2 separate regions of the Homo sapiens genome follow, and region 2 is linked to region 1. Evidence: fine-mapped expression QTL. A gene starts in region 1. The other region holds a variant in brackets. All regions are shown on one strand. Distances are between the middles of the regions. Region 1 holds the start of REELD1 (reeler domain containing 1). Region 2 overlaps LINC01095 (long intergenic non-protein coding RNA 1095).

Evidence for each region.
Region 2: its variant is fine-mapped to the expression of REELD1 in whole blood (INTERVAL, PIP 0.91).

What each region holds. Positions count from the first base shown.
Region 1 is chr4:146,209,086-146,221,009 of GRCh38, forward strand. REELD1 (reeler domain containing 1) reads left to right here and starts at 5,453. Exons shown (of 8, transcript NM_001354631.1): 1 at 5,453-5,609; 2 at 5,991-6,113; 3 at 7,857-8,075. The coding sequence starts at 7,868.
Region 2 is chr4:146,105,804-146,117,727 of GRCh38, forward strand. It overlaps LINC01095 (long intergenic non-protein coding RNA 1095), which reads right to left. Exons shown (of 6, transcript NR_038331.1): 2 at 8,489-8,662; 3 at 7,839-7,953; 4 at 5,798-5,947; 5 at 5,508-5,670; 6 at 3,652-4,063. LOC105377469 (a long non-coding RNA gene) reads left to right here. Exons shown (of 3, transcript XR_939294.1): 2 at 2,082-2,277; 3 at 3,735-3,822. Among named protein-coding and RNA genes, the nearest start is that of LINC01095, 10 kb to the right of the region's middle. RefSeq lists an enhancer at 438-487. The variant A/G (reference allele first, on the strand shown) is at 5,993.

The sequences.
Region 1 (11,924 bases):
AAAGATGGCACACTTAAAGCTGATCAGTTGCAATCCAGGGCGGTGTATGGGATCAAGTGCCTACACAAGGATAAAGGGTATACATGGTGTAGGATCCTAAAAAGATACGATAAAACATTCATATACGTATAATAGAAGTCCCCAGAATTATTCAATGCCAATCTTTGAGGTTCATTTTTGCATGCAGTCACAAGATATGAATGTTTAGGCTTTGAAAAGGGAAAAAGAGCCTCTTAATCAACTCCAGGTAATGCTTTTTCTGTCCTGCTATAACGATACATGATCATATTTCTCTAATCATGAATCTCGTTGTTTTGCAATTATCTGCTGATGCATTGCTCTGCTTTACCAGCCCTGGAGGAGTGAAGACTATGTGTTATTCATCTTTATATCCCCTGCCCAGAGCCCATGACCTGCACTTAGTAGGCATTTAATAAAGGTTGGCTGAAGGAATGAATAAATGCTCAGAGTACATTTCCAGTGTAACTAAAATTGAATGCCACCAACTCCCCTCTTTTGGACATAAATTATAGTACTTGTCCAGACTCCCTAAATGCCAATTTTTGATCCCCACTTTGCCTCCATACAAAAGGTCTCCAAGTCTTACTTCCATTTACTCTCTCAACATCTCAGTCCCCACTATCCTGCGTCAAATGCACCTCATTTTATGTCTGGATAATTACTACAAACACAGCTAGTGTTCACACCTTTGTTCAAACTCTCTCTCCTGCTTTGAATATCCTTTTACCCATCTCATCTGTCTAAACTCCACCTAACCTCTAAAATCAACCATATTTTCCTGATTCTACTTGAAATATTCTGGCATCCCAGACTCTGGTAACCTGGCTTTTATCTCTCTTCTGATCATAGCTTGTTTACTGCTCTGCATCACTGCTAGAGAGCATCTAATCCTTACAACACCTTTGTGAGAAATCTAATAGTCTCCCCATTTTGCAGATGGTAAAACTGAGGCTCACCAGCATTAACTTTCCAAGGTCATGTAACTAGTTTGCTGTCTGACTTCAGAGCTCTTTCTTCTTTACCTTGCTACCTCACCCCAAGTAAAATGTCAGTTCCTAGGGAGAAGATCCTGCCGATACTTTATCAGCAGACTCTCTTGCAAGTTGCTTTACAAATAGTAAGAATTCAAATATTAATTAACTTAGAAATCCTGTTTGACTGTACTGTTCTTTAACAGGGATAATGAAGGAGAGGATTATTGGGTAGAATAAAAGCACTAGGCTGGGCACAGTGGCTCACACCTGTAATCCCAAGATTTCGGGAGGCAGAAGCAGGAGGATTGCTTGAGCCCAAACAGGAGTTTGAGACTAGCCTAAGCAATATGGTGAAACTCTATCTCTACAAAAAATACAGAAATTAGCCAGGAGTGGTGGCACATGCCTATATTCCCAGCTACTCAGGAGGCTGAGGCTGGAGGATCACCTGAGCCTGGGAGTTGAGGCTGCAGTGAGCTGTGATTGCACCATTGCACTCCAGCCTGGATGACAGAGTGAGACCTTGTCTCAAAAGAAAAAAAAAAGGCACTCAACTTTTTTTTTTTAAATGGCAGAAAGTGCACAGTAGCATGGAGGATGATGCAAAAGTCAGCAGACCTGCTAAACGTACATGAATGACCATTGACTTCCCACTTTCATGTAGAGTTTAAAGAGAATTGTATTTTTCTCTTACATAGATTATCCCAGCACTCCAGAAATCTTCAGATAGTTTTAAAAAATCTATCTAAACATTAAAATGCTAATCACAATGATGATACTGGAATAGCAGATTTCTATGTAAAAACACCAGTCAATCTCAGCAGGAAGTCATTACCAAGGTAGGAAAAACATTTGGATAGGAAAGACTGTTCATGAGTTACAAAAGCCATTATCTTCATCTCCAAGATCTTTGAAAATGAAGAAAATGTCCACTTGTCTGCTGGAGTGAAGGAGCAGGAAACAGGACTAGAATAGTGAGCTCAACAGGTTCCTCCTTCATTTGCAAACTTTTCCAAGGCAGACTCTTAAACCAGGAGTGAGTGTGGGATGGTGTCAACGCAGGTTATAATTACGTGCCAGACTTTAATGCATGCCATCTCAAGCTGTTTTAAGAGTAGCTCATTCTTATGCCTTTATAACTAAAATAAAACCTTGAAAATGTGTATCATTTTCTTGCTGGAAGAAATAGAAGAGATTATTTAATTCAAACCTTTTTATTTTATACCTGAGGCAACCCAGAGAAGTTAAGTGATTTACCGAAGGACACAGAGTATCTGATTTATAACCATAAAACCCACCCCAAGACTTTCCCTTGGTATGACGTTAATATTAACTGTTCTACTCAGGGCCAGGGGATGTTAAGGTAACAGATTCAATCATGTTAATATATCAAGTCCAGCCAAATTGCTAGTGTGAAATGACCTCAAGCAGATTCCCAAAATAAAAGCAACAAACAAACAAAACACAGTATTTTCTTGCTTTCCGGGTGCACACAGCTGGGTCTCCTTCATGTGGGTGGGGATTGGAGGCCAACTCACTGCTGTCTCTCGGGCTTCGGGCTTAGCGCATGATCTGGCTCAGAGCCACACTCTCTCACCGCCTCCTCTCCGTGGTGGGCACCAACCCTCTCTGTGGCTCAGCCAGCTTTCTCTTTCCCCAGACAAAACAGGTACAGAGCCCTTCCTTTGTCTCAAACCCCATACTAAGTACCAACTCCTTATTATTTATTACCTCACTGAAACTTCACCAGCACTTCGGGATGCAGGTACAGGAACTGGTAGTTATCTTCATCTTGTAGATTATGTTACAAAGCTATTCTATAGCAAAACTGTAGGGAAAAACCTTATCTATCACTTCCTGAATGCTGTGGGAACTTTTGGCAAGTTACAGAAACACTGTGACTCAGTTTCCTTATCCATAAAATGAGATAACAATAGTGCAGACCTCATTGTGTTGCTGTATCGATGAGGTAATTTGCCAACTAGCTGACTAGAATAGTGTGTGGTACTGTGCAGGCATTATATAAATATGCTGTTATGTTTAATTACTATCCTGTCCCCTCAATGCCTCTTACACATCCTGCACGTGGTACAATACGGCCTCAGGTCTGACCCCACACCATGACCTATGGCTCAACCACCTTCCTTTGTACAGACCTGCGCTGATAAATATGGTAGCAGCTTACCACATGTGGCTCCGGAGCACTTGAGATGTGTCTAGTCTGAATTGAGACGTGCTGTAAGTGTAAAATACCACTGGATATCAAAGACTTACTGTGAAAAAAAGAATGCAAAATATCTCACTAATGATATTTTATATGCTGATTGCATGTGAAATGTTTTCAATATATTGAATTGACTAAATTTATTATTAAAACAAATGTCTTTTGTTCCTTTTCACGTTTTTTAAAAATAAGGAGAGTCCAATTTTTTTGTTTGTTTGTTTTTGAGACAGGGTCTCACTCTGTCGCCCAGGCTGGAGTGCAATGGCAAGATCTCAGCTCACTGCAACCTCCACCTCCCAGGTTCAAGCAATTTTCCTGCCTTAGCCTCCAGAGTAGCTGGAATTACAGGCACGTGCCACCATCCCTGGCTAATTTTTGTATTTTTTGGTAGAGATGGGGTTTCAACATGTTGGCCAGGCTGGTCTTGGACTCCTGACCTCAGGTGATCTGCCTGTCTTGGCCTCCCAAAGTGCTGGGATTACAGGCGTGAGCCCCTGCGTCCGGCCTAGAAAATTTTAAATTACATATGTGGCTTGCATTCTATTTCTATTGGCCAGCACTCGTATAGAGTAGCCTTGTATGTGTTCTTGGTCAGATTCCCAGGGAGAGTTTCTGTCTCAGCCCTGAGTCAGCAGGGCCCTCGCCTGTGATGAATGCCCCCCTGGTACAATCAGCTTTGTCGGGAGAGTGGCATAAGATGCGCTGCCGGCTCAGCAGAGGCTGTGGGTGTGGCAGGCAGGATAAGGCCATGTCTAAGATATGGTGTCCTCCTGATTTTCAACAAGAAATATTACATGAGCAAATGGCAGGATTATTTATTGAGCCATGCAGGTGCGCTCTCTCTACCTTTGCACTCCTCTCCTCATTCTAATTGGTAGTTGGGCCTTTTGAGAATCCGTATATCCAGGGAGTTTGTGTTTCAGGGGCAAAGCTGAGGTGTTGGAGATTACCACTCTACCTGTGGTAGGTGGATTATGCCAGGTGGCCCAGGGTAATGGGGTGAGAGTAAAAAAAAAAAGGAGAGGAGGGACACTTTTGTCTCTAAGACTGGGATAGGAGCAGAGTGGAGTGGAGAAGAGGTTAGCCACTCTCCTGCTAGGGGCAGAGATCTGTGTCAGGACCCAGTGGAGGGGGTGGGAAGAACCCAGGCCACAGCCTTGCTGAAGACCTGAGCCCCTTTTTGGCATAGAAGCCTTCCAACTAACAGTCTTCAAGTGACCACATGAGCTCTGAAAACTATCATAACAGCAGCCATGGAAGGAATGTATCCTAATTTTCTAGACCTCCCAGAATTTCTCATGACTCAGTGGGAGATTGAGATTGCCTCCAATCCTAGTGGGATAGAAGCTTAGAGAAACCAAATTGAATTTGTTTGCTTTTGTTCTGTGTGTGGGGAATACTGGTATCCTAGGCCAAGGAAGCCCAATTTCCCTTGGTGTTTATAGGATAGATAGTCTCATTTACACTTGCAACAAAAGGCTTAGCAACCTGGTCCCTAAGCCAGTGCCTTGCCTATTCAGTCACTCATAGCTTTAGTTTTTTCTGAGTGGAGACAAGGCCTAACAGTCAGAACATTGCTCTCTCTGCAGCCCCCTACTCCACATCACCCAGGACTATCAATCCTAGGATTCTCTCTTGGACGCCTTGCATTCAAACAGCCACCAAATCCTACCTCCACCTGATCTCCTGATCTCCCAAATCCATTCCTCTCTCTTTTTCTTCATTGTTAATGTTGCAAGCTTCTAGGTGATGCTGGTGTTGCACTCTAGGGACCACACATTGAGGAACACTGATCTATAGGCTCTCTGGTATTATCAGGTGTCTCAGCAGATTCTTAGATGAATGAAAATGTGAACTCCAGCTTTAGTGCAATTGATACGGGAGGTGCCTATGCCACGTGTTATTTTTTTGTACCAAACGTTGCTCTTGGGCTAACGTATCAATTCTATTTCACCAAGAGTAACTTCAGTCCACACTGACTCAAGAAGCCAAGAATGCTGAGATGCATTTCATTCAAACATTCTCCCCTTTGCAGGGAGATCAAGATGGAGGCATCCAGCTTCTGCCAAGGATGTCAGTGCCAGTCCTGTGCAAAACCAGTTCCGGTTCTTTCTAGTTCTTCACGCAGGCTTGAACAATGATGTGACTGTAAACCGTGTGTGTGTGTGTGTGTGTGTGTGTGTGTGTATGTGTGTGCTAATACGATTTAGGTTGGATTTGGACACTGAGGAACAGTTCCTGGAGATGCTGAGGATTAGTGGTAGCAGCTGTTATTCTCCCCATTAGAGGAAAAACTGAAAGGAGAAGAAAATACTTATGTTTAAGGGATGTGTTTGCAACTCTGCGGGAGGAAGCCATTCTATCAAGCCTGAAGAAAACTGTGTTCCTAGGTAAGTGGATGTTTTTATTTATTTATTTTTGTAGAGACAAGGTCTCCCTGTGATGCGCAGGCTGGTTTTGAACTTCTGGCTTCAAGTGATCTTCCTGCCTCGGCCTCCCAAAGTGCTGGGATTACGGGTGTGAGCCACCATGCTCAGCTCCAAGTGGATAGTTTTCAGGGTTCAGGTAGACAAGATGCTAGTGGGAAAGAAGACACAGTGAAACCTAAGGCAGGAGGGTGGGAGGTGGGGCTGTGGCCGTAGTCTGTGAGTCCAGGCACTCACTCCCCTTCCCTTGTAGGCAACTGTGTCTGATCTGCCTTTGGAAAGACCACTTGCCATCAGCAAGGACTTGAGGAGCATTTTCATTTCATTTCTTTCTTTTCTTTTAAGAGACAGGGTCTTGCTCTGTACCCAGGCTGGAGTGTAGTGATGTGATCATAACTCACTGCAGCCTCGACCTCCTGGATTCAAGTGATCCTCCTGCCTCAGCCTCCTGAGCAACTGGAACTATAGGTGCGCACCACCATGCCCAGCATTCAAGGGGCATTTTGTATGTGGCCCTTATGAAAGAAAATGAGAAGAACCCTGAGCCCCCTTGACTGAGAATGTGCTTTTACACAGTTCATCTTCATTATCTCCTAATGTGTCTGAGAAGCTGTAGCCATGGTTCCTTGTAGTATGGAGATGTGTGACTTTGGTGCTTCATAGAAAACAAACTTAGAAAAGAAAGGCATTGTCTGAAGGACTCTTATGTCTAAGAAATTTGAGGTATAGATCATATTCCTGTCTTCTTTTAGCTTGTGAATGTAAAAGGTGGTGTTGTGTGAAGAGACAATGGGAGTGGAGGACACTTGATTATTTGGTTTATGGATTATTTCCTTAGTCTATTGTTCTGATAGCTAGTTTTACTACATTTTCAGGATTTTATTTTCACCTTTTAAAACCAGCTGACTACAGGGGAGGGCATTTTTTTTTTTTTTTTTTTGCCTTGCATTGTTCCTTAGGTCAAAAAATTAGCCAAACTTCTAAAATGCCTGTGTGCAGGACTATAAAAAAAAAAACAGAACTTTTTTTTTTTTTTTTGAGATAGAGTCTCGCTCTTTTGCCCAGGCTGGAGTGCAATGGCATGATCTCAGCTCACTGCAACCTTGGTCTCCCAGGTTCAAGCAATTCTCCTGCCTCAGCCTCCCGAGTAGCTGGGACTATAGGCACATGCCACCACACCCAGCTAATTTTTTGTATTTTAGTAAAGACAGGGTTTCACCGTATTGCCCAGGCTGGTCTTGAACTCCTGTGCTCACGCAATCCACCTGCCTCGGCCTCCCAAAGTGCTAGGATTACAGGCGTGAGCCACCGCACCTGGCCTAAAACAGAACTGTTAAAAAATGCCTGTGATAATCCTAAATATTTATGTAGGCAGATTTTCATCTGCCTTGTTTGCTATCTCTCATTTTATTTTTGTCATCTTCTTTTACATTGCCAAATTTTAATTCTTCCTCTTGATGGGAATTAGAGGTAGTAAACAAAAATAAAATTTACTCTATAAATGCTATTTTATTCAATCATTGTATTCTATTCCTGAGCCAAAATTGTTATCAGTATGTTTAAGAAGTTATAGAATAAATTGAGTATTTCTTTCTCTGCTCATCTTCTTTACTAAAAGTAGTGAAATAGCTAAAAACAGCCAAAGAAAGGGCAAAGAGATATCAAAGCATTGCCAGCTTAACAGTCACTTCTAAATAATTGATAGTTGGTAGATGTTTTGTAGCACTTAACTTGGTAATTTTCAATTGCAACAGAGATAAGATGCTCAGCCAAGCCATCCCATGCCATGCTGCCTGACCATGGTGGTGTATTGAGTGTCTACTTCAGATAATGTATCAGAGGCCACACCGCCTTTGGGTACCAGTCAGCTTGCAAGGAGCTCACGCTAGGATACAAACATTTTCTGGTTTTATTTCTTTGACTCAATAATTAAAGCCTCTCTTTTGAACAACAACAAAAAAAGCAGTCTGGTCTTATGAGAAAATTACAAGAACAGAAGTTTTTAAAAAGGTGTTTGGAAATGAAACACTTCCTATAGCCTGGCATTTCCTTTTGATCTTGGCCTTGAACATTAGCAATCCTGGGAGGCTGCACTAAAAGCATCTCAGGTACAGAGGCAGTGTGGGGTTCAGGTTAGTCACATCCCGAGAAGACTTTATGTCGTTTTCCTAAATAACGTCTGGACTGAAGCTGCTGTTTGTCATGATACAGGAGAGGGCAGGATGAGGATGCAGGCTGCCCTCGTGGGCTGGGCTTGTACCACCCTCTGCCTGGCTTCCTGCTCATCTGCCTTTTCCCATGGTGCCAGCACGGTGGCCTGTGATGACATGCAGCCCAAGCACATCCAAGCCCAGCCTCAGCACCAGGACAGCCACCACATCACCATCCACACCCACAGGACTTCCTATGCACCAGGTGACAAGATTCCAGGTATGTACCAGAGAGGCTTAGAGAGACTCCGAGGAGCCCCAGAGCCCCCATGGACCTTCCAGTTTGTGTTTGTCCCAGTCAGAAGCTTCCTGGACTAAATTTGGCTTAATCCCTTTTTTTTGTTTTTTGTAGAGATGGAGTCTCACTGTGTTGCCCTGGCTGGTCTGAAACTCCTGGGCTTAAGTGATCCTCCCACCTCAGGCTCCCAAGAAGCTGGGACTACAGGCACATGCCACTGTGCCCTGCTAATTTTTTGTATTTTTTTTAGAGACAGGGTCTTTGTATGTTGCCCAGTCTGGTCTCGAGCTCCTGGGCTCAAGTGAACCTCCTGATTCAGCCTCCAAAAGTGCTGGGATTACAGGCACAAGCTACCATGCCCAGCCTGGCTTAATCTTAAGAAGCAATTATCAGGTTAAAAATAAGCATAAAATATTTGTGTCATAAAAACCACATGATAACTAATCTCTGTATTAATTGTGATCTGTATAAGAAGACACAAATATTATTATAGATAATTATTTTGTCCTTACCATAAGATATAAATGTATCTTATTACGGACACAAATATAGTTACTCTGAACAACCTTCATGTATCATCTATGTGTGTGAAATACACTTTTTTCTCATTATTTAAAACTAAAATTCATCCATCAACAGACACTTTGGTGAGATGATGGATATTTTAATTTGCTTGACTATAGTAACCATTTCACTATGTGTAAGTATATCAAAACATCATGTTGTATACTTTAAATATATACAATTTGACATTTTTTAAATTAAAATATTGGGGGATGAAAAAATCATTTCCTGTTCTTTTAGTTTAGGTGCCTATAAAAGCAGGGAAAGAACGTGAGCGCAGGTGGTTTATGTGAGAGATCATCCCAGGAAACACAGGTGAGGAAGAGGGAAAGGGAGCTGGGCAAGAGGAGATGCCAGTCAAGGGCGTGCAACTGAGCAGGTCTCTGCTGTGGGCAACCGAGGTGCATTCCAGTGGGGACCCTCTGAGAAGCCATGTGAAACACCTCTGAATCATCTCTCAGGAAGATGCAGGGGCAGGGAACTTACCAGTTTCGGGTTGCCCCCACCAGGGGTGTTTCTACCTCCATGCCCCGCCCCCACTCCCCAAACTCACACACACTCTTCAGAGTCCACAGCTTACCTTGGACCAAGCTTGGAAGTGGCAGTGAGGGACAGCAGAGAAGGAAGCTACAGATACTTCAGATGCCACGAAGTGTAGGCAGAGAACTATGCACCCAAGGTGAGCTCCAACACATCAGCAACTTTTGCCCTAAACCCCTCTTGATTTTTGCTGATTCTTTTGATAGGAACTAAAGGTGATAAACAAAAATGAAATTTACTCTATAAATATTGTTTTACCCATTCATTTCGCTCTCTTGAGAAGTGTGAAAAAACATGGGTGGATAGTATATGAGTTCAACATCAATATACTCCCCAATATACTGAATTAAGTCTATTCTAATAGAGCTTCCCAAACTTTGTCACATCATGACACAGAAAGTGAGTCTGTGTATTTAGCACACCGGGGCAAATGCAAGAGGCTCCCCAAGGAAGGCCACTTCTTTGGGGGCTCCATCCACCCTAGAGTGCATCCAGCCCCTCCCAGCATGAAGGGATTGGTATGTCAGTATCCTAGTGTTCTGTGGCTAGGGGAATAACAACGGTAAGAATCAAAACACTATGTCAGCCAGGCATGGTGGCTCATGCCTGTAATCCCAGCACTTTGGGAGGCCAAGGTGAGTGGATCACTTGAGCTCAGGAGTTTGAGACCAGACTGGGCAACATGGCAAAACCCTGTCCCTACAAAAAAAATACAGAAATTAGCCAGGCATGGTGGCTTGTACCCTGTGTTCCCAGCTACACTGGAGGCTGAGGTGGGAGGATTGCTTGAGCCTAGGAGGCAGAGGTTGCAGTGAACTGAGATAGCCCCACTGCACTCCAGCCTGGGTGACAGTGACAAAGTGAGACTCTGTCTCAAACAAACAAACAAACCCCAAACCAAAAAACCACTATGTCAGTGAGAAAAATCTGCAGAAATAACTAAAAATATTGTGATACCTAAATTCTGAAGGTATCCTGAGGGAAACACAATTGGATTGTAACTGGAACCAAGACAGCATATGTAATAAATGACTTGACAGAGTGCCTCATGGATTCAATGAGAGTCAGTTATTACTGACTTACGTTGCAAGTATACTGTTTTCTTGCCGGGATCTGTGAGCTCCTTGAAGGTAAGGACCATGTTATCCTGCTCATAGATACATACTCAACTCCTAGCATAGTGCTTGGTGTTCAATAGTTCTAAATATTTGTTCAAATGTTTATTAAGAAAAGTTCAAATGTGTGGAAAATAAAACAATCCTAGACACCAAGCTGCATTTAGCAAACTTATAAAGGTCTGACCCTGATTTTAGCCACTCATTCCCTTGAACATGAGTGGCTTTTTTAAAAAAAATTTTAAATAGCTTGAAGATATTACATGCTTTAAAAATGTTAGAATACTATCAAAAGGTAGAAAATTAAAAGTACTTTTCCTTCTCTGGCTCTGAACACTCAATTTGATTCCCCAGAGGTAACCTTTGTTAAGTTTCTTGCACCTCTTTTCAGAAGTTTTCCATGCATTTAAGCATATGTGAGTGAGATCTCAAATTAATATAATCTTAAGCAGACACAAATTAAATGTCTGTTTAATGTTTATATTTTTTACCTAACAATCAGACTGATATATTTTATTGGATACAGAATTTTGTTTTTTTGTTTGTTTTTTTGTTTGTTTTTTTAAGACAGAGTCTCACTCTGTCACCCAGGTTGGAGCGCAGTGGCGCAATCTTGGCTCACTGTAAGATCCACCTTCTGGGTCATGCCATTCTCCTGCCTCAGCCTCCCCAGTAGCTGGGACTACAGGCACCCACCACCACACCTGGCTAATTTTTTTGTTTTGTATTTTTAGTACAGATGGGGTTTCACTGTGTTAGCCAGGGTGGTCTCAATCTTCTAACCTCGTGATCCACCCGCCTCAGCCTCCCAAAGTGCTGGGGTTACAGGCGTGAGCCACCGTGCCCAGCCACAGAGCTTGTTTTTAATGATTTCATGACAGTCCATTGTCTAGAGGTCGCATGATTGATTTAACCAGTTTCTTATTTATGGGTATTTACTTTTTAAATTTTTTTCATAAATGGTTTTGATGGATATCTTTATTCATATGTCTTTGCTCACTGTATGCATCAAGATTGTTTTAGTTCCAAGTATCAGAAAAACTGATTAACAGAAACTTAATGAATAAAGACACTTAATTTTCTCTCTTAAGTGTGGAGGCACAGTTTCTGCTTTGGGTGAAGCCATTCAATGACATCATCTAGATCCTAAGATTTTTCGATTTTCCTGCTCCGCCATCATCAGCGAGTTGGGATTTCATTCCTTTGACATCGCACAGTTTCAGGATGAGTGCCATGGTTTTAGGCCTCATACTGGGATGACAGCTGAAATAAAGGCCTTACGTGAAAAGATTGATCCTTAGACATTAGCTGTTCTCTCAGCAGATCTGGCCTCATTGGCCAGAATTCTATCTGGTGAAGGGGAACAGAATCACCAACACTGGTTTTAGTCTAATCACAGTTCATCCCCTGGGGAAAAGGAGAGGCCTAACTTCCCCGAAGACAGGTGGTCTCCACTTCCACATGAATGTAACATCTGGGTTCTGTTAGCAGAACCATCTGTTCTGCTAGCAGGGAATAAGCGGACAATCGCTGTTGGGTATTGGACATCAGTGTTTGCCATATTTATTTGTGCAAGTTTGTCAGTGGGGAAAATTCCTAGATGCAAAATTTC
Region 2 (11,924 bases), 100 kb before region 1:
GCATGCAAAACCAGTCCTTTCTTGCTTTAGAAGAGACAGAAATCTTGAGCGTGGACATACTTTCAAGTTCCAGCACGTAGATCCATGGTCATGATCGGGTGGCCCAAAACTGCCTGCCTTAATGAAGATGCTCCCGGGCCTACACATGGAACAATCATGAACCTTCAAGGGATTTCTTTTGTGTCCTTATCCACCACATTCACATTCAATTTACCTAATACATTTCCTAATGAAACAATTAATACATTCACATATGAAACTAATTAAGACAGAGCTACAGCTTTGCCTGCTTTTTCTACAATTGAATTACTGAGACTCAGCCTGAATTCTAAAACTCTCTTCTTGAGTCATTAGGGGAGGAAAACGAACCACATGTGTTGTGAAACTTGCACATCATGGGCTCCCTGTGTTGTCACCAGTGCAGGAAGCGACACACTCCTGGAGTAGTGGGTGGACCTGTGGGCCCGGCATGGTGGCTCATTCCTGTAATCCCAGCACTTTGGAGGCCGAGGTGGGTGGATCACAAGGCCAGGAGTTTGAGACCAACCTGGCCAGCATGGTGAAACCCCATCTCTACTAAAAATACAAAAATTAGCTTGGCATGGTGGTGAGCACCTGTAGTCCCAGCTACTCGGGAGGCTGAGGCAGAAGAATCGCTTGAACCCAAGAGGCAGAGGTTGCAGTGAGCCGAGATCTTGCCACTGCACTCCAGCCTGGGCAACAGAGCAAAACTCCATCTCAAAAAAAAAAAAAAAAAGCTCCTATAGAACACAGAACTCAAGATACTGACACCATTGGTCTTGTAGCTAAGATGCCTGGAAAGTCTAAGTGTCTATGTTGAGTGTTTACCTTTTTCAGGTGTGACTTTTCTGAGAAATTGTAAGTATGTCATGTCTTGGACATTCTGGGCATTCCAAATCATAAAATAGGATTCCAGATTATTCTGAATGGCTGTATTTACATCATCCATTTCAACATCCATGTCAACATACATGTTGCTGAAGGGGTAGCTTTGGGAACTACTGCTCTGAACACAAATTAATGGTAGGAGGTACTGACTGAAAGCATCATGTGGTAGAAAACCCCAAATGCTTTTTTCAAGAACTATATATGAACTGTGTTTGTGCACGCACAGTTGTATGCTCATAAACGTTAATAAATTGGTATTGGGCAACACAATTAACATTCATTTCATTGGAGGCCCACAATATGCTAGGATTTTTTTCCCTTAATGATGTTTCAGAGCAGGATGCTTTGGTCCGAAATACATTGAAACACGCAACAATGAAATTCTATTTCTTTCTAGTAGTATGTTAAAGGCACCATGGGGGACACAAAATTATGAACCCCAAACTGCACCCTCAGGTTATTTACAGCCTATTAAGAAAAGCCATGTTTTTTCCCAATAACAGAGAATTCAAATACAGCTAGTCCCTGTGTTTGTTGTCAGAAAGAGAAAGAAAACCATACTTTGTTGGGACACATCATTATTAGTGTAACAATATATAAACATATGTCAACATGAAAAGCTTAATTTAAAGTATCATGGCATTACAGATCCCTTGTCTGAAGAATAAACTCAGTCAAAGAAAGTTGGAATGACTTGCCCGGGGTCACATAGTACTGATGATATCAGAACCCAGCTTTTTGACTTCCAGGTGGAGAATTACAGGTAAACTGAGAGTCCCTGGCTGGGTTTGGTCAGGTCCTTTATGGCTCTATAATGCTACGACTCTCTGAGAACTCTATGACCATGCTGCCACTCTCCTGACATTCTTTTAATTAATAAAATCACTCAGCTGAACAAAAATAATGGTTTCATTAAGATGCAGAAAATGCCACATTTAATCACTAAAAATGGCATAGTGTATCATTCACCTTAGGGAAATTTTTATGTTTAAATATGCAATATAGAGATATTTTAGATAATTAGCAACAAGGAAAGGCAACTAATCTATTATTGCATAATATTTGATTACCTATTAACTTCGGCCATGTAATTGAACACATAGCCAATGACTGTCACTTCCTGGCACTAAAGCCCAGGTAGATACTGCTCTGTTTTCATTCTGTCATTCTAGCCATTTCTAGGATGAATTTCCTTTTATTTGGAAGGAGGTTTTAAACTGAGCATTTGACGTCACATTGTTACCCACTGAAAAGTGCTCTCTGTAAGTGCTTCCTGAAGAAGGCAAGGTTGAAGTGAACCCTTTCAAACCAATGCGTGGCACTTTGTTAGCATTTGCTGAGTGTCCAGCACTAAGCTAGGCTTGTGAGGTAAGAAAAGAAAGTTTGTACCTGTTTTTATCACATGGGGCCAGTTACCTTTGTCTGCCTTCCAGGCCCTGGTTGCTAAATCCTGGGAAGTCTGTAATTACATTAGAAGATGGGATTATTAGTGATAAAATGTGGTGTTTTATAGATAGTGCTCTGAAACTTTGTTTCAATGGCCTTTCCCACACAGTATCTCAATAACCCTAAGGTAGGCAGGAAAAAAAATGTTACTGAGGCTCAGAGAATTTAAATGGCCTGCCTGAAATGTGACAGAAGGCAGACCCAGGACTAAAATGGAAGTCCTTGGAAGCCTGGCCCAGGGCCGTTCCTTCCTCACAAGGAAGGACTTGTAAAGAGCTTGCTTAATTCAAGGTTCCTTTGGCCTGGGATATCCTTTTGCTCATGCTCACCTGATGCCTCCAAGATAGGATTTCTGGGTATCCCTTCTTACCTGACATGCGTTCTGGCCACATCTTAGCCTGTAGTGCTCATGTACCTTCTTAGTCTCTAATCTGTCTATTGGTGCTTTGATATGTTAACCACGGGCTATCTTACTCCCTCAATTTTATTTTTGGATAAATTGGAGAAAACAGTTTTAAAACGATGAACTATAAGACTTTGATGCTGATTCTTTATTCTCAGTCCCAAGCTTTGCCTATACTTCAAAACAGATCTCAATGGACAAGGAAAAATAATATCAGCATTTCACTGGGCATCTAAAGTGCTAGGCATTGTGCTAAAAACTTTGAATGTTTTTAACATTGTATCAAGATGGGGACTGAAGGGCTTTAAACCCAGGCAGTCTGAATCCAGAACCCAAATGTCAGCTATGACACTGCTGTTGTCTCCCACAATGCCATACTTGCAAGTTTTGTGTAACACAGAGCATTTAGAAATCTCTTTAAAATTATGAAATTCTGGGTTTTCTTCCCCTGCTGTGGCCCAAACACAAACTAAGAACATACCTAACGAACAGCTGCAATTGATATTTTCATCTTAATTAGGGATTAAACATCAAATAAATTATTCTATTTAAGATGATTTATGATGTCCTAACTTTTCCAGTAGTTCATTTCAAACAGATTTTTAATAGTAGGAGAAAACAGTACCATAGTAACTTTTTAAAGTATGTGTGGGAAATTAACTAAAAATATTAAAAAGATCACTCACCCACTGTTAGCCTTTATTTTTTACCCCAAAACAACATGAGAAAATGAGTTTTTTCTTTTACCTTTGCTGTACCTTCCTCTTTGAAAATAAGCCCATTAATAAGAAGATATAAAAGGAAAATGTATCTCAAGACAAATTAAACTTTTTAAAAGAAACAGTTCTATCAAAACAAGTTTGCAAATAAAAAATAATTACCAAATGAACATATTAGGGGAGTGTAGCCATTAGGCATGTTTTTATTATGCAATAATTTATCCATGAACAGTTTATATTTCATATCCATATTACAGTGTTTTTTTTCCAAGTCACTGGGAGTACTCAAGCAGAGCTGATGAAAATTCATCAATCTGGGAAGTTCCAGAAGGGATTTTGCAGTGAGTAGAAAGTTGAAATCTTGGATGATAACGTCCCTTCCAATTTGAAGATTCTATAATTTCCAACTTAGGCAACTGACATAAGGTGAGTATCCTCATGGACTTGATTCCGTAGTGATGGTGGAAAGCAGTGGTGGACTATCGTGAGCTCTGGAGCCAGCCTGCCTGGTTTTGCTCTTGGACTTGATCACTTAATTGCTGTGTGAACTTGAGCAAGTTTCCCATCTGTACCTCAGTTTCCTCATCTGTAAAATGTTGATACTAATAGTATGAATCTCATAAAGTTGTTGTGAAGATTAAATGAGTTAATGTAAGTAAAGTGCTTGAAACAGTCCCTGGCACAGGGTAAATATTCTATATAATAGCTATGCTATTATTTTCCAATAATAATATCGGGAAAATAGTAGATGATACTGGAATAATATTCCAGCAATATTGGAATAATATTGGAAATTGTAGTCCAAAAATATTGGACTATTATCTGATCCATCTTGTGGTCTCCAATATGAAACAAACAGTAGCCCATTGTGAGGTTAATTATGGTGAGTTAAGGGCTCATATCTTGTCTGAAGCAAAGGAAATAAAGAAAAGAAGAGGAGAGGTAAAATGAGGAATTTTATTTAAAGGCAGCAGAGAGATGTCTAATGTTCAGGGAGAAAAATGAACACTCCATAGGCCTAGTCCATCAGGAGTGAAAGTATGACAGGAGAGAAAAAGCCAGTGGTACACAGTCTCTTCACACACACACACACACACACACACACACACACACACACTCCTCAGCAAACACATTTGGGGATTACTGGTCTATGTGCATCTTAAAGTTTTCACTTTAGCACTAGTGTTTAGTTCTAATATTGACCTATGGCTTCAATTTGGCAGCTCAAGTCCACACATTTGCCCTGAGCCCCTGCTAAGTAGCAAGTGTTGTGGAAGCAAAGCATGCTGCCCAAGGGTGCACAGTCTAGGAGGAAGGGGCCGACAGGACTGTGCCCACACTTTTCACTGGGTGGTAAGTGCTGTGATCAGCTTCTATGCTGGATGCTATGGGGGCTGGGAGAAGGCCACCTGACAGCCTACAGGGACAGGGAAGACTTCCAGGCAGAGGTGAAAGCTTCACTTAGACTTGAAGCAGGTATTAGGCTGATGAAGAAAGTAAGCCAAACAAAACAAAACAAAGCAGAACAAAACTCCGAGAAAATTAGACTAAGAAATGTTTTAATTCCTTCCATAAACTTTGAAAATAGGCAGGCCTAGGCTTGAATCCTCGTTTTGCTATTCACTAGCGATGTGACTTTGGGCAAGTTACTTAAACTCTCTGAACTTCAATGTAGTCATCTCTGGGACAGGGTCCCTATCTTATTGTGTTGTTCTGAAAATTAAAGGAACAATGTATGATCACCTCATAACCCAGTGTCTCCCACAGGCTTATTTTGAATATCTGTGGTATTAAAACACTCATACTAAAACATAATAAAAGAGGAAGTAATGATTTGTTGAATTTAGAGGAAGAAATAATGACAAGGAAAGCCAAAAGTAGCACAACAAGCTCTGTATTTAGGCTCATATATCCATTCTTGCCAGAGCCGCTAAGTCAGAGCTGGGGTGGAGAACAACTGGCCAAAGTCCATTACATTCCATCTAATGATAGGTCTGTTGGCAGGTGGGGGGAGGCTATCAGCAACTCACCTTGTCCAGTACCCTCCTGTTATAATACAAAGCTCCAGCTCAAACTGAAAACTTAAAGTACAATCAGCCAGATCCACCTTCTAATGACTATGATGTTTAAAGCATCCACAAAAGTGAAATTCAAATTATTGATATGTTTTAGTAGCACCATCCGTAATTTCACCTAAACATAAAGAAGAAGCAAAACAGGAGCAGGAAAGTCAGTCTATGATAAAAGCTCCCATTTATCACAGGCCTCCTATGAGTTAAGTACTGTTTATTTGCTATTTCTAACGCATATTGCAACTTACAAGGCAGTCCTGTTCTCCTTCACAAATGAAGCATCCACAGCACAATTGGTGACTTCACAAAGGTCCCATGGCTCCTAGGTGGGAAGCCGCCAGAAGGCAGATCTGATTCTAAAGCTGCTGTCTGCATGCCAGGCTAGTACAGCTCTCAATCTGGGATCAGGAAAGAGAGGTACCACATGTGGTCAAGGAGCTCCC[A/G]CATCCCCAGGAGTCCAAGGGTTGCCATTCTTCCTCCTTCTGTCTCTGTGATGTCACCACTACAATGTTGTCATATTGTGAACTGTTCTGGTAAGTTACAAATTTTTCCACAGAAAAGAAGAGAAAGGGCTACCCAAAAAATGGGAGAGGAAAAACTAATCGTAAGTCTTCAGAGCTAAGTGAAGTTAAGAACCTGACCTTGGATGGGGGTATCCTAACCCAGCGGTGGCCTTAGTCACGTCATACTTCTGCTTCGCAACTGATCCCAGATACAGACACAGTCTAATTGAAAAGAAGGAGTTATCTGGTTGTGAGGTGTATTAACTTCTTAGGTGAAGTAAAATGCTTTGAAACAAGGTGAATTTTAAAAATCAGATATCTTGATTCAAATCCGGTCTTTGCCACTTAATAACTGTGTGATTAAGCCTCATCTACTTATCTTCTAAATGAAATTAATAGTATTTACTTCACTTTTCTCATCTCTAAAATGGTGATAATAATACCTATCCTCCTAGCATGATGGTAAGGATGAAGTGAGAATAAAAGCTAGCATGTAGAAAATAGTAACCGAAGTTACCTATTGATAATTTTCTGTGATTATCTTAATTAGCTACAGTATAGCATTCTTACATGAAGTACCTGGATGTGGTAAATAATCAATAAACAGCAGCTATTATTATTAACAGGGCACATTTTTGTATTGGTGCAGGTCTGCTGGTGGAAATAAATGAAAGGAGGAGAAATCCTGTGTGTGACAGCACAAATGCAAAAATAAAACCAAAAACAACAATAAGAAAGCAGAAGTGGAAGGAAAAGAATCTTAGCTTGAGTCAACCAACTTGTTACCAGAATTCAGTTATTAAAAATCTCTATAGTGTAAATTTAGCCTTTAGAATTTAATTTTTTTAACTTTCTCTTTTGTTTTTACCAAAGTCCACTTTGAAGAGTCCAGTCTTCACTGGACCAAGGAAGAAAGGAAAATAAATTTAAATTTTTATGTATTTAGTTAGTTTTGCTTTGTAAAAGAGAAGAATCCAGCTCAGGTTCTTAACTCCACTCACCTCTAAAGAATTCCCAGTCATATTTCCCTCTCCCTTTTTGGGTGATGCTTTGTCTATGTCTATGGTAGAGGAGAAATGGGGAAGAGACACTGCAGGGGTGATGAGGACAGAATTTAGAGCACTGTAGAGAGAGGGGAGATTCTGGGGAGAGAGTGAGAGGGTCCTTGTGCAGTGATCCTTCTCCTTGGAATGGTTTGTCCCTAAAAGCTACTCTGCTTCTTTCCTGTCAGGGATGTTAGCAGAGCTCAAATCCTTATGAACCCAAACTCCCAAGCCACTGGATCCGGTGAGATGGCTGGAACTCAGCAGGGTCAGCATGAGGAACACCGCGAGGACTGCTGAAACACCACATTCCCATGGCTGCCGCAGGACAGCGGGGTGGCTGGAAGGCACAGTGTCTGTGAAACTGTGGTCCTCGGCAAGGGGTGTGACCTCATGGTGGGTCGCCTGACCTATGAGCAGAGATGGAAGGAAGAATGCCAATTTGGAGGCAGATGTGGGAAGTAGGAGTGCTGTGGCAACACGGTGTGGAAATAGGGAGTTCTCTTCAGGCGTGATGCTCACAGTTTACATAAATCTATTGATCTATGTATTTACCTGCCTACCTCTATGTGTGCGTTTGTCTGGGTGTGGGGTGGAGCAGTGTGAGGTGGGTTCAGGAACCGTGTTTGTGAGGGCTGTCTGGGGAGACAGAACCAATAGGAGCTATATCTGTACTGATATTGGTATCTCTACTGATATAGATAGATGAGAGGGGATGTATTAGGGGAATTGGCTCACACGACCTTGGTGACTGAGAAGTCCCACCACAGTCCATCTGCAAGCTGGAGACCCTGGGACGCAGGTAGTGTGGCTTCACAGCAAGTTCAAAGACCTCAGAATCAAGGGAGCGTATCTGCCCTAAGGATGAGATCGGGAAAAAGCCTGCAAGCATGTGTTTGAAAGGAGGTGAGAGAGGAAGATCAAGAAGGGTTTTCCCAAGTTACGGTTGCAACGCAAGAAAGGGAAAGGTGAGAAGAGGGACCCGAGCCCAGGCCTTGGGAGGAAGAGGAGGAAGAAGAGGGGTGTGGGCCCGACCCCGAGAGCAGACCAGGGCTGCGGTCAGAGCTGGTCGCCAGATGAGGACGCCTGGGCAGCTGGCCTGTGCCTGAGCAGAGGTGGCTGAGGTCCAGGAGGCAGAGAAGAAGAAATGGAGCCTCGCACCGCTGCTCCTAGCTTGCCCAGAGGGAGAAGGGTGATGGGGCTGTTCCTATGCACTCAGGACCGTGGCTCTTGAACTTTATGTGTCGGGAAGGAGGCAAGGGCTGAACTGGAGAGTGGGCCATTCATTTAGTTCCAGCGTCCCAGGAAATGCTCTTTTCCCCGCGGGAGCCTCTGCCTGCAGCTGTAATGACCTTGGACTAGAAGGTCAAACTCCAAAGGCTTGAAACCGCACCTGCAGCAGGACTGGCCACCTACGTTGTGGGGTATCTTTAAAATAAAATGCTGCACTGTCCTGCAACTGTCAGTCTGAAGCAGAAGTCCTGAGTGCCCAGGGGCAACTGGTGTAAGTCCTGGAGTTTGAAGGTCATAGAGCCTGGAGTCCAACCGCAGGAGGAGAAGAGTGTCCCTGCTCCAGGAGAGAGAGAGAGAAAAAAAAAAATCTCTTTTTGTGTATGTGCTGTTGTTGCCTTTTTTGTTCTTATCTGTGCCCCCAGCCATTTGGATGATGCCCCCACATTGAGGACAGGTCTTCCCCACTCAGTTTACTGACACACACTCCAGTCTCCTCTGGAAACCATCTCACAGACACACCCAGAAAGAATGCTTTACTAGTTCTCTAAGTATTCCTTAATCCAGTCAAGTTGGCACCTGAAATTAACCATCCTAGGGACACTGCTATTTTTAAATCTACCTAGAATTTGCACCTCTGACTCTAGAGATTGAGGCAGAATTCATTTTCAGGGAGACTATCCTTTTGATTTGAAAAACACCGATATAAGCTCTTTAGTTAAACAAAGATAGGGCCATGCTTCTATTCTGGAAGAAACAGATTAAGATGGAGCAAAGCTAAGCTGCTCATCAGAGATTTTTTTTTTCTCTAATATATTTTATGGCTTCCTCAGGAAAGAAGCAGGCCAGGGAAGAGTGGAGATGGGCAGAGTGGTGATAAAACAGGGGGCTCATGGAGAGGAGGAGAAATGGACTTTAGCACCACAGTGGCAGGCAGGAGCTTAAGAGCAGAGTTTAATTCCAAGGGATTCCTTCGATGGGGTTATGACCAATCTGCTTTAGGAGCAGTGATACAGAATTTTCTATCTCCCTTTTGGTGGTGCTGTGGTTTGGATGTTTGTACCCCAAAAAACTTCATGTTGAAATTTGATCCCAGTGTTGGAGGTGGGACTTTATGAGAGGGGTTTGGGTCATGGAGGAAGATCCCATATGAACTGATTAATACTCTCCCTCAGGGGTGAGTGAGTTCTCATCTCATTAGTTCCCGATCCAGCTGGTTGTTACAAAGAGCCCGGCACCCTCACCTCTCTTTTGCTTCCTTTCCATATGATCTCTGCATACACTAGCTTCCTTCCTCTCGTGTCGTGAGTGGAAGCAGCCCAAGGTCCTAATGGCAGATGCCTAATCCTGAACCTTCCAGCCCATCAGAATAGTAAGCCAAATAAATCTTTTTTCTCTGTAAGTTACCCAGCCTCAGGCATTTCTTGATAACAACGCAAAATGGACTAAGGCATGTGGTATGACTCCTCATGTTATTCTCAAACCCTCAGTAAAGTTTTGTCACTCTCTATGGCTGGTGTCAGCCATGTTGGAATAAAGAGAGGAGCTGGTGTCCACAGGGGGCAACCGATTAACAGAGAGATAAGGTTGGGAGATGACAAGAGGAAGCACGGAGCTGGTGTAAGCATTCCCTGACAAATCTTCAGAAGTTCTTGCAAAAGAAGACTACATGTTTCTTGTTCACACAGGATGGGATTCACAATATTTGAGGGAGGGATATTGTCATAGACATTGGGGGTACCTGGTAGCACATGAACCCACTTTTTATGTTTAGGGATGTCCTCACTGTATGAGTCTCCATGAGGGTTAGAGACCTCCACTATGGAGGTCAAATAGGCCAGAGACTTGTTTTTCCAGCCTCCTGCCCTGGAGAGGGGGCATGTGACCTAGGCTTGGCCAGTCAGGCACCACCCCAGGACTTTGCATTGGAAGCTAGTGAACCGATGAAGAGGAGTGGTAGAGAGTCTATTCTGAGGAGTGGGGTGGTGGGGTAGAAGGCAGCTAAAGCCTCCAGTTTCCTGGGGCACAAGAGAGAGTAGGATTGGTAGCATTATTTAGTTGAGAACATCCAAGAAGCAGATGCCAAGATGGGATTCGAGATTTATTAGGGAAAGAAATTCATTAGGGAAAATGGCTCTGGAGGATAAAGAGAAAGGGAGTGGGAGTTGGAGAGAGCCATTAGATTGGGAGACAGGTCTAACAACTGTAAAAGGATAATGAGAAACAAAGAATGGTGGGAAGAGCCTCAGAGTGCAGCAGAATTCTGAGACAATCTTGGCTTGGCCAATGGAGAGTCTCCAGGCAAAAGCTGCTGTGTTCATTTTTCTATTGCTGCTGTAACAGGTTACCTGACCCTTTGAAGCTGAAACCAACACAATGATCATGTTGTATTGTATATCTGTAATTTGCTAAGAGGGTAGATCCCAAGTGTCTTTACCATACCAAGAAATAAAAATAAAAAATAAAAAAGAATGGTAACTATGTGAGGTGATGGAAATGTTAATTAGCTTGATTGTGGTGAGGAACACAAATTTATTATCTTACAATTCTGGAGGTCAGAAGTCTGACATTAGTGCTAAAATCAAGGAACTGACAGGATTGCTTCCTCTGAGAGCTTCAGGAGAGCTGGGGCCTGCCCTTTTCAGCTTCTAGTGACTGCCAGAATTCCTTGGCCTGTGGCTGCATCACTTCAATCTCTGCTTCGGTCATCACCTCTCCTACTTCTCCCTCTGATCGCCTGCATCCCTCTTATAAGGACCCTTGTGGTTACACTGAGCCCTAAGTAATCCGGGATACTCTTCCAAGATTACATGTGCAAAGTCCCCTTTGCCCTATAAAGTAACATTCACTGGTTTCCTCTGCTGGTGGCAAGTGCAAGCTCTGATGTCCAGTGTCTAGTGCTATTAGCAGCAGTGCCCATTGCTCATGTTCTTGTGGCATGATTTGTACTTGGGTTCTAGATACCTAGAGTCTCTCTTCTTCTACCTGTTTTCTGAACCTTCTCAAAATTTCCTGGTGTTTCTGTGAGCTCCTTGGTCATCTTTTAATAAACTTCTTTTCTACTTAACTCAATCAGAGTCAGTGTGGCTGATCATTGTTAGGTTTGGTGAAAACAGGAGGCTCTGTTCCTAAAAGGAAAAGGGGAAATAATTGCTCTAATTTTAGAGACTAAATTTTCCAACCTTCCTTGTGGCCAGGCATGGCCATGTGACTAAATTCTCATCAGGGAAATGTGAGCAGAAGTGATGTGTCTAACCTCCATGTCACTTCTTCAAAAGGAACTCCTATGCACAATCCTTCCTTCTTTTCTCCCCTCTTCTGGGTTCAGTATGTACATGGTATTGGGGAGTCAGCTTGCTTCAGTGAATAAGAGCAACATTTGAGGAGATGACAGGGCACCTAGAAAGATGGAACAAGGCTCTCTGGATGATTTTATGTAGCAGAACCACCTTCCTATGTTTGTGGGTCTGTGTTCTTGTGGGTTGTTATGTGAGAGAGAAATAAGCCTATATTGGTTGAGCCACTGTCTTTGGGGGTCTCTTTTGAAAGCCACCAGCCTATTCTAGGTTTAGTGTGACCTAATGAAAACAGCCAATTTA